Regions from separate parts of the Homo sapiens genome. Here region 2 is linked to region 1. Evidence: fine-mapped expression QTL. A gene starts in region 1. The other region holds a variant in brackets. All regions are shown on one strand. Distances are from middle to middle.

Region 1 (5,368 bases):
GGGTAGTCTTCCTTCCCCCCAGGATTCTCTGTTTCTACTGGCAACAGGGCCTGGCAGCCTCCCACACCCAGATCTTAGCAACCATGGGAACCCCTGGCAACCATTACCATGGTGACAAGACAGGGAACTGAAAACAGGCTGGGGGCACTTCCTCTGCAGCCTTCGGGATGTGAGCAGGATAGGGGCTCCCTTCCCTATACAGTCTGGGAGGGAACATGTGCCTCTGTCTAAAACACCTCCTCACTGGCACCCACCCCCACCCCTGCCCACGGGTTCCGGTTCCCTCAGGGTGAGGAAATGAGGGACACCTAGGGTTATGACGTCTCCAAGGGGAGGGAGGGTGAGTGGGGGCGTTTGGGACTGGCATGATCGCAGATGCGTGCATACGCTGGCAGACATGGTGTCAATGTGTCAGTGCCTATATACCTTATCCACTCTTTGTCATGTAGACACATGCCCGCACAGTCATTTACTCACACATGTACACTGACCCAAAATCATATACCTACAACATATAACAGAATCAGGCACACCACCACACAAAAATAACTGCACAGATCCACTCACAAATCACATTACCAGTACCACACTACAAATAACTCCCAGACTCACAGATTTATAGATGCACTCGCACTCCCAGCATCTGTGAACATGTAGAGTAATGGTTAACTTGGTTGAGTTAACCAAGTTAACCATTGGTTGGGTATAAACTACATGCCCAGCTCAGAACTAAGTGCACTACCTGTGTTACCTTAATTAACCCTCTCAACAACCCCCTGAGGCACCAATCCCCATTTACAAAGGAGATGAGGCATGAGTGTGGCGTGTAAGCTCACAAGGTGCATAGACTCCAGACCACACTGTCACAGTCCATGCCACACTGAGCACTACACACACGTGACACCCAGGACAATGGGACTGAGGGCGGGAACCGAGGACTAGGCAAACAGTGGAGTCTGTGCCACCAACACCTGAAGGCACAGTTCTGCACCCTCAAAGGTCCGAGCCTACACTTTAGCATTAGCAGGGGCCAGGTAAAGGCTGGTGACTAAACTCTCTGCCTCCGTGTTGGCACAGGCAAGGCTGGGGGAGGCAAAAGAGACAGAACTGGAATAGGAAGAAGTAGAGCCACCCACAGCCTGGGCCCCACAGGTGTGGAGGTGGAAGAGTGAGAGCCCCCAGATCTGAGGAGCCAGCAGCGGTGCAGGGCCCCTCACCCCACCTTACCCATCTCTGTGTCACACAGAGATGTCCATCCCTCCTCCCTCCCCTCCCCCTTCCTCACTCCTCCTCACCCCATCTCTGTGCCTCATCCTTTCATTACTCACCCCTTCTTTCCTCATCCCTCACCCTGCCTTCCTGCCCCTCCCCAGCCCTTCTTTCCTTATCCCCCACCCTGCCTTCCCTCCCCTCCCCAGCCCTCCTTTCCTCTGCCCTCCTTACTCCCACCCTATGGCTCATCTGCCCCATGCCCCTCCCCTCCTCATCCCCCTCACCCCATCTCACCATCCTCTCACCACCCCCTCTCCCTACCTCCCCCCCTCAACCCCATTTCCTCAAATTCCTCATGCTCATTTCCCCACATTCATCACCCATCTCTGCTCCCCTCCTGGCCCCCAACCCCACTTCCTTTCCATCCTCCTTTCACCCCAAGTCTCTTTCTTCCTTCACACCTCATGCCCCTTTACCCTTGGGAGCCCCATAGTGACTCCTGGCATGAAGGTAGGTAGTGAAGAATCTACAGACATGACTCCAGGACCCTGGCACCCCCCCCCCGCCTTGCTCTGCTCTTGGCCCAGGTACTCAAGCTGCAGTTTCTAGCAAGACCTCATGGGTGTCCAAACTCTGTCTCTGGAAAATAGGAAAGAAAGAAGTAAAGGGGAGCTTCCGGCCTGACCCTTCTATCATCATCAACCCCCCAGCACTCCCCTCCCCCACTTCACCCCCAAATTACTCCCTCCCCACCCCCGCTCCCTCGAGCACAGATGGGCCTGGGAGACAGTGACGTGGGCGCCAGGCACCGTGTCTGCTGGAGTGGCGGCTTCCGCTGGCGACCGCCTCCGCAGCCCCGCCTGCTCCCTGCATCGGGGACACTGGGGCTGAGATCTAATGACTTAATGGGGGGTGGGGGAGACTAGAGATTCTGAGGGTGTTAAGGAAGGGGATCTTGGGGAGTGAGATGAAAGATGAAAGGGGAGAGCTAGGATAGGAGATCGGGGTGTAAAGAAAGAACCAAGAATAAGACAAAAGGGATCACTGCGGGAAGGAAGACAGGAGATCATCTAGGGCCAAGAAGGAAAGGGCTAAAACACAGGCACTCCAGGGGGAAGCAGGATGAGAGACTGATTAGAAGAGGGACTGAAATGGAGACCGCGGGGTCGCTGAAGAGGGGCGCGAGGATGAGGGGCTGTACAGAGGGTGGGCGGGGGAGATTCCTGGAGGCACCGGCCTGGGCAGAGCCATCCGTTTCCCTCGGGGGAGAGGTCCGGGGGGCTCTGAAACCCGGCATCCGTGGGGTCTGTTAGAGATTCCGTTAGGTCACATCAGGCCACCGCGGGGTCAGGATAAGGTAAAGCTAAATGAGGTCAGCTTGAGGTGGTTACACCGTTGGCTGAAAGGCGAGTAAGAAGTGCTGACCTTTTGGCCCCGGTCCAGGGACTACACCTCCCAGAGTGCACTGTTCTCTCCCTCTTGCCCCCCAATGAAGAAAGGAAAGAATGCACGGCCGCACGGCCAACTGGTGGGTACAGTTTTCCTTTAAGGCTGCCTTTGACGTCGCAAGGGTTCCAGAAGGTTCTCCTGGGATTCGAGCAGTGGCCAGTACGTCCCACCTTCTCAACCCGGAGATTGGACTAATATAGTTTGCCCCCGGGCTCGGGTCTGAGTCTCAGGCACGAACCAATAAAATCAAAGGGCGAGCGAGGTTGCCGCCCTCTGTCTTTTTCACCAATGGCACGACAAGATGGCAAAGAGGCGTGGTTGAGTGATCCCAGAGGGCGCCAATCAGATCCACACCAATCACTGCCTGGAATGTGTGCGCGTGTGGCCGGGTGACAGGGGCGGAGGATGGGCGGCTATCACCAAGCCGCTTGTTGAAAACTGCCCAATCACAGTGGAGGCTGAGCTGAGTGACAGGAAGACGGTTCAATGGGCGGCGCGGAGGCGGAGCCGTGGGGGCGGGCTCCCGGTCCCGCTATCGGCGGCCGGCGGGCAGGCGACTCCTGTCCCGGGTGGAGGCGGCGGAGCCGGAGCCGGGGGAGGGGGCAGCGGCTGTCTCACGGACCACGGCGGCGCCCGCAGCTCCTCACCGGTGAGGGCGCCAAGCCAGGACTCGGGGGTCCCGGGAGCGGGGCGTCGTGAAGCCAGGGCTCCTGGTGTTGGGGGGTTGGGACACTGAGGGCCCGTAGGCTCTGCTGCCTTGGGGATGCGGGGCCCCGGGGTCTGCAGGGTGCTCGGAGTCCTAGACCAGGGCTTGGCTGTCACAGGGGGCAGCCAGCGTCTGAGTCGGGGAGGGGAGGGGAGGGGAGGGTCGAGTCGGACCGGACCAGATTGGGTTCTGTGGGGCGGAGGCATCTGTGAGCAGACCAGCCAGCCAGCGCGGGTGACATCACCGACCACCCTCCCCCGCCCGAGCCCCCTCCCCTCCTCTCCTCGCCGCGCCTTTTGTCCCGGCCGAGCTCCGCTCTGCCCCGCCCATCTGCGAGGGAGGAGACTCCCGTCAGTGACTTCATTGAGTAGGTTCTTGGGGATTGGGGTCGGGTCCTCCCCAGTGAGAGGCGACAGGAGCTCACTGCCTCTCGGGCCCTCACAATCACACCTGTCACAGGTATACACGCTGCCACTCACAAACACACGCTTGCACTCCCAGCCTCACTGACACGCTGCCATACAGCCGCTCACAGCCAGCCAGACACTGCTGCACCTGAGAGCAGGTGGCCGCGGGTCTTCTCCCTTCACTCTCCACATTTGGGGATCAGGTCCGGCACCTGCTGCGCCAGACAGGCCTTGCTGGGCACGCGCCTCTGAGAGTCCAAGGAGGTGGCTTCCAGAGCTGCAGCACTTCAGGCCGGCTCCGGTGGAGCGATCAGAGGTGAGGGGCTTGGCTGGGCATGTTTAAGCGCACAGTGCTCTCCTGCCCACCCCCAGCAGCACCCCCACTGCAGGCCCGAGGAGCTTTCCGGAGCTTCCCACACTCCTGGGGAGAAGACTTCTTAGCCAGCTTGATGTTTAAAATTCAGCTGGAGCCCTTAAAACTTCGAGCGTGGACGCTGAATGGGTTTGTAAAGTTTCGGTAAGTCCCTCCGGAGAAGGGCACTCACACCCATACCCAGTCAAACCCTCCACGCGGCCATCCCCTCCATTGCCTTCCTGCTTCCTCCAACTCATCCTCATCCCCTCTGTGACATACAGGAACCCCCCTCCGGCCTCACCCACATATTTGAATGAATTGCACCCCTTATCATTCCTTTTCTCAAACCCTTCAGGTATCCATTTTCCACAGACATTTCCTCCATTATTTCAACTCTCCACATTCCTCCCTTTCAACCCATCATTAACCCATTTTCCACCTCAGCCATTTCCATCTGTCACTCATCCCCCTCCATCAGTACCTCATTTTCTGTATCAGCCATCTCCCCTCCCTGTACCTCAACAGTCCCCCTCGCCATTTTCTCCCCATTTTTCCTTCCTGCCTCTACCTTAACATCCTCCTCATTCTTCTCCATCAAAGGCAGTGCCATGCCATGGGGCTCCTTTGTCATTCCAACACGTGGCCTGTGGGTAGGGGGGAAGGGAAGGAGGGAGGAAAGCAGAAAGAGAAAAAGGAGGCAGATCCTGAAAGAGCTTGCCCTGTGTCTGCGGAGGCAAGAGATGTATGGGCCTAGAGCAGCTAGCAGGTGGGTACCAGGGAGGAAGCTGGCCGGGTGTGGAGGTAATGCAGGGACACCAAAAGGAGGTGGGTGGTTGGTGAGCCGTTCCACTGGCCCTCTGCCTGGAAGCTGCTCTCGTTCTCTAGGGGCACCCTCTTGGTGTGCTAGGGTTCTTTCCCAGTCCCAGGGGAAAGAAGGTGTGGGTTGAGGCAGAAATGGCAGACCACCCCCCCCCGCTCCCTCTCAGACGGCTTTTGCTGCCATTTCCGAAAACGGTTGCCCCCCCCCCCAACGAGGTGCTCTTTCTTCTCTGCCTCTCCCAACCCCACCCCCCACCCCATCTCCCCCACAGACGTGACATGCTGGTGGGGGGCAATGGGGGAGTACCCGCCTTTGTGGAGCCTTTTCTTCGTCAGAGAAAGGTGACTCCCAGAACCATGAGTCAACCCAGCCACCTGCAGCAGGGCCTGTGGGGGCAGCAGTGAGGGCCATTGTCCCTG
Region 2 (5,368 bases), 59 kb after region 1:
AATTCCAGACTTCTGGGGACTCCCTTCCTGCCCACCACAGCAGATTTATCCCCCCAATCCATGCCCCCACTCTTCAAGTTGTCATCCTCAAGAAGTTCAGCGCACAGTACCTCAGCCTGTCCAGTCCTCCCACTGTCATCACTTCCAATCCTCTTCCCAGCTTCAGCCACAGGAGTCTGGCAGGGCGGAACAAGGGTCTCAGAGAGGGGAGAAAATGAAGGGGAAGATGGTGAGCCAGGTCCCATCCCAAGGGCCATGTGTACACATGGAGGCTGGTGTGGACTATCTATCTCCAGGCCCAGGAGAACCCTCAAACTCTAAGGTTCTGGTCTCAGGCAAGAGAAAGGACAAGGCTTCAGCCTCATCCTCAGCCAAAAAGAGAGAGCACCCTAGGAAACCCAAAGCAGGAGACCATAGAAGAGGGACTGCAAGGTTGGGGTTATCCACAGTCACAGGGAAGAACCACCCTGCCCAGGCCAGAAGCCTAGTAGAGGCCCCTGTAAGCACATTTCCCCAAAGGTCTCAACACAGGGGCCAGAGCTCTCAACACACTGCTCTTCCCCAGCTGCTTCTCCCCAAAGCTTCGGGTCCCCAGGATCAGCCAGAGGCAGGGCGAAGAGCAAGTGACATCCTGACCCCTCGCCACTGTAAGCACTGTCCTTGGGCCCACATGGAGAAGTATCTCTCCTTCCCTACCCTCAAGGCTTCCCTTACCAGGGGTTTGCAAAAGGTGTTAGCCAAATGCCTGGATAACCATCGACCCCTACCCACCAAATCTAGTCAGTAGAGAAAAGGCTGGTAATACTAGCACTTGGTATGCCAAGACCTGAAGCCAAACCAGGGGGAAGGTGGGGATGTGGAGACAAGAAATGGAAATTCTAATAAACTAGCTGAATTAGATAAATCCCATTCATGTCTTCTTTGGAATCTAGGGTACTGAAAATGTCAATTCCCAATTCTGCTACAGCCATAGCCCCTCAGTTTCAAGTCCCAGTAGAGCACTCAGGATTCTGCAGGCTTAACTCTTTTGTGGATCTTCACAGATGATCACATCTGGAGTCCACACATCCCTACTCTATAGGGTGAGGCTACAGGGCCAGGTCAGCATAGCCCAAAGCCGCCCTTGAGAGGGAACGACTTCACAGCATGTGAACAAAAAACTACATCCATTCACACGAGCACAGGTCATCTGAGTCTAGGCAACTGTGCTTTGTCCTGGGTATTGTTCTCTTCTTCATCCACTTGACCTGTAAGTTCTCCACGTATCTTTCTGACCATTTCTTCTCAGCCCTCTGCTCTTTTCTCTCCCTGGGTCAGCTCATCCATCTCCAAGGCCATGAAAACAAGTGTCTTTTAATACGTCTAGTAACCGTCTGGATTTCTATAATCACCGGGTCATATCCTCTACCCATTTTCTAATGCACTATTTGTTGGACATTGTATTAGTCAATGTATTACAGTTTTCTACTGCTGCTGTAACAAATTACCACAAAACAAATTTATTTTGTCAGAAGTCTGACACGGAGCCTGGGTGCAGTGGCTCACATCTGTAATCCCAACACTTTGGGAGGCTGAGATGGGCTGATAGCATGAGCCCAGAAGTTTGAGACCAGCCTGGGCAACATGACAAAACCCTGTCTCTACAAAAAAAAAAAAACAAAAAAACCACAAAAATTAGCTGGGCATGGTGGTGCATGCCTATAGTCCCAGCTACTGGGCAAGGTGAGGTGGGAGGATCACCTGAACCAGAGAGGTCAAGGCTACAGTGAGCCACTGCACCACTACATGCCAGCCTGGGCAAAAGAGACCCTGTCTCCTCCCCGCAAAAAAAGTCTGACACATGTCTCACAGGGCTAAAATCAAGGGGTTGGCAGGCCTACATCCTTTTCTCTAGGCTCTGGGTAGGATTCACTCCTTGCCTTTCCCAGTTTCTAGAGGCTGCCCACATTCCTTGGTTACTGACCCCCTTCTTCTATCTTTAAAGCTAGCAAAGGCAAGTCAAGTTCTTCTCACATTGTATCACTCTGACCTCTTCTGCCTCCCTCTTCCACTTTTTTTTTTTTTTTTTTTTTTGAGATGGAGTCTCGCTCTGTCTCCCAGGCTGGAGTGCAGTGGCACGAACTCGGCTCACTGCAAGCTCCGCCTCCCAGGTTTTATGCCGTTCTCCTGCCTCAGCCTCCCGAGTAGCTGGGACTACAGGTGTGCACCACCTACGCCGGGCTAATTTTTTTGTATTTTTAGTAGAGACAGGGTTTCACCATGTTAGCCAGGATGGTCTCGAACTCCTAACCTCGTGATCCGCCCGCCTTGGCCTCCCAAAGTGCTGGGATTACAGGCGTGAGCCATTTTTTTTTTTTTTTTTTTTGAGACAGAGTTTCACTCTTATCACCCACGCTGGAGTGCAATGGCACAATCTCGGCTCACTGCAACCTCTGCCTCCTGTGTTCAAGTGATTCTCCTGCCTCAGCCTCCTGAGTAGCTTGGATTACAGGCATGCGCCACCACGCCTGGCTAATTTTGTATTTTTAATAGAGATGGAGTTTCTCCATGTTGGTCAGGCTGGTCTCAAACTCCTGACCTCAAGTGATCCACCCGCCTCGGCCTCCCAAAAAGTGCTGGGATTACAGACATGAACCACTGCGCCCGACCCTACCTCTTCCACTTTTAAGGACCCTTATGATTACACTGGACAAAGCTGAATAATCCAGGACACCCTTCCAATTTAAAGTCAGTTGATAGCCAGGC[G/A]CAGCAGTGGCTCATGCCTTAACAGTCCCAGCATTTCAGGAGGCCAGGGCAGCTGGATCGTTTGCGGCCAGGAGTTCAAGACCAGTCTGGCCAATATGGCAAAACCCCATCTCTACTAAAAATACAAAAATTAGCCTGGCATGGTATGTGTGCCTGTAATCCCAGCTACTCCGGAGGTTGAGGCAGGAGAATCGCTTGAACCCAGGAGGCGGAGGTTGCCAAGATCATGTCACTGCACTCCAGCCTTGACGACAGAGCAAGACCCTGTCTCTAAATAAATAAATGAAGTCAGTTGATTAGCAACCTTAATTCCACCTGGAACCTTAATGCCCCTTTTTCCATGTGAAATAATATATACATAGGTTCCAAGGATTACGACGTGGGCATCTTGAGGGCCATGATCCTGCCTACAGAGATAGTGACCCAAACTATTATGTATGTTCCAAATATTTTCTTCCAATTTGTATCTTATTGGCTAATTTTATGGTGACTTCTATTGTATCAAAGAAAAATTTTTTTATGTAGTTAAATCTACCAACACTTTACTTCATGACTTCTAAAACATTTTCTCCTGGCACTTTGATAATTTTGCATATTTATGTTTTAGATTACCGATTTTTATGGTATGAGGTGATAATCTAACCTTCCCCAAAATCATGTCCAATTTACCAATACCATTTTTTAAAAATAGAATGTCTTGAGCCCATTCCATTAAATATGGTGTATTGTAAAAACATGAGTCATTTCTAAGCATCTCTAGGCTTCAGGTCCCCATATTCAACAGCATACCAGACATTATCTCATATTTGACTTGTCCAAAAACGTATTTTCCCTTTAACTTTTTCCTCCAACACGCCCATTCCTATCAAAATGCATGACATCCACCTAAATACTTAAGCTTTGACTCTTCCTTCCTCCCTGATCTAAGCCATCACCAAATCTTGTCAGCCAGGCTCAGTGGCTCATGCGTGTAATCCCAGCACTTTGGCAGGCCGAGGTAGGAGGATCATTTGAGGTCAGGAGATCGATACCAGCCTGGGTGGTACCCCATCTCTACTAAAAACACAAAAATTAGCCGGGTGTGGTGGTGTGCACCTGTAATCCCAGCTACTTGGGAGGCTGAGGCAGAAGAATTGTTTGAACCAGGAGGCGGAGGTTGCAGTGAGCTGAGATCATGCCACTGCACTCCAGCCTGGGCAATAGAGCAAGACTCCATCTCAAAAAAACAAAACAAAACAAAACAAAACTTGTCAATTATACCTATGAAATGTATTTCAAATCCATCTTCCCCTCTCCATTTCCACCATCACTATTGTCTTAGTCATTATTTCTCACTAAATTGGTTGCTCTATTCCTTCTAATCCATCCTGCACATGGCTACAATTCTCTGGAGATCAACTGCCCCGATCTCTTCAACAAGTGTCATAAAAGTTTGAGTAAAAGGCTAGGGGTGGTGGTACATACTTATAAGCCCAGCTACTTGGGAGGCTGAGGCAGGAGAATCCCTTGAGCCCAGGATGTAGTGTGCCATGACGATTGGGAACCGAATGATGCTAAGTTTGGCATCAATAATGGTGACCTTCCAGAAGTGGGGGACCACCAGTGCCTAAGAAGGGGTGAACTGGCCCAGGTGGGAAACACAGCAGATAAAATTCCTGCACAGATCAGTAGCGATATAGCACCCGTAAATAGCCACTACACTCTTAGCCTGAGCAACAGAACGAAACCCTGTCTCTTATTTTTCAAAGTTTGAATAAAGGAATCTAACAGATGCCAACTTGTGGACCTAGGTTAGATATTGGTTTGGTCCAAATAGCTGTGAATGATATTTGGGTCGCTTGGGGGAAACTCCGAATATGGTATGGGTATCTAGTTTGGTTCTTGACCTCTAGAATTTTGCTTTTAGGGACAGGGTCATGCTCTGTCACCCAGGCTAGGGTGCAGTGGTGTAATCACAGCTCACTGCAGCCTCTAACTCCTGGGCTTAAGTGATCCTCCTGCCTCAGCCTCCTGAGTAGCTAGGACTACAGCTGTGTACCACCATGCCCAGCAAACTTTTTTTTTTATTTTTTGTAGAAATGAGGACTCACTCTTGTTGCCCAGACTGGTCTCAAACTCCCGGCCTCAACCAATCCTCCTGTCTCGACCTCTCAAAGTGCTGGGATTATAGGCATGAGCCACCATCACCACGCTCAACCAAGAACATTTACATAAAGGGAAAGGTAAAGATACTGACCAAGGCCGGGCACGGTGGCTCACATCTGTAATCCCAGCACTTTGGGAGGCCGAGGCGGTGGTGGATCACGAGGTCAGCAGATCGAGACCATCCTGGCTAACATGGTGAAACCCTGTCTCTACCAAAAATACAAAAAAATTAGCCGGGCTTGGTGGTGGGTGCCTGTAGTCCCAGCTACTAGGGAGGCTGAGGCAGGAGAATGGCGTGAACCCAAGAGGTGGAGCTTGCAGTGAGCCGAGATCTCACCACTGGACTCTAGCCTGGGCAACACAGCAAGACTCCATCTCAAAAAAAAAAAAAAAAAAGATACTGACCAAAACGAAAAAGTTATAATGCAGTATGATCTCAATTTGGGTTTAAAAATACCACATGTATAGACACGTACAC

What was found. PIP is the estimated chance that this variant, and not a neighbour inherited with it, causes the effect.
Region 2: its variant is the best candidate, but not a certain one, in a credible set for the expression of DNAJB5 in whole blood (INTERVAL, PIP 0.53).

The regions. Positions count from the first base shown.
Region 1 is chr9:34,986,522-34,991,889 of GRCh38, forward strand. DNAJB5 (DnaJ heat shock protein family (Hsp40) member B5) reads left to right here and starts at 3,224. Exons shown (of 5, transcript NM_001349723.3): 1 at 3,224-3,310; 2 at 3,978-4,291. The coding sequence starts at 4,110. DNAJB5-DT (DNAJB5 divergent transcript) reads right to left here and starts at 2,858. Exons shown (of 2, transcript NR_109756.1): 1 at 2,638-2,858. RefSeq lists enhancers at 2,645-2,854, 3,409-4,338, 4,339-5,268 and silencers at 2,965-3,464, 2,979-3,127.
Region 2 is chr9:35,045,083-35,050,450 of GRCh38, forward strand. It overlaps SPATA31G1 (SPATA31 subfamily G member 1), which reads left to right. Exons shown (of 2, transcript NM_203299.4): 2 at 1-904. The coding sequence ends at 787. It also overlaps the pseudogene RN7SL338P. Among named protein-coding and RNA genes, the nearest start is that of SPATA31G1, 5.5 kb to the left of the region's middle. The variant G/A (reference allele first, on the strand shown) is at 2,746.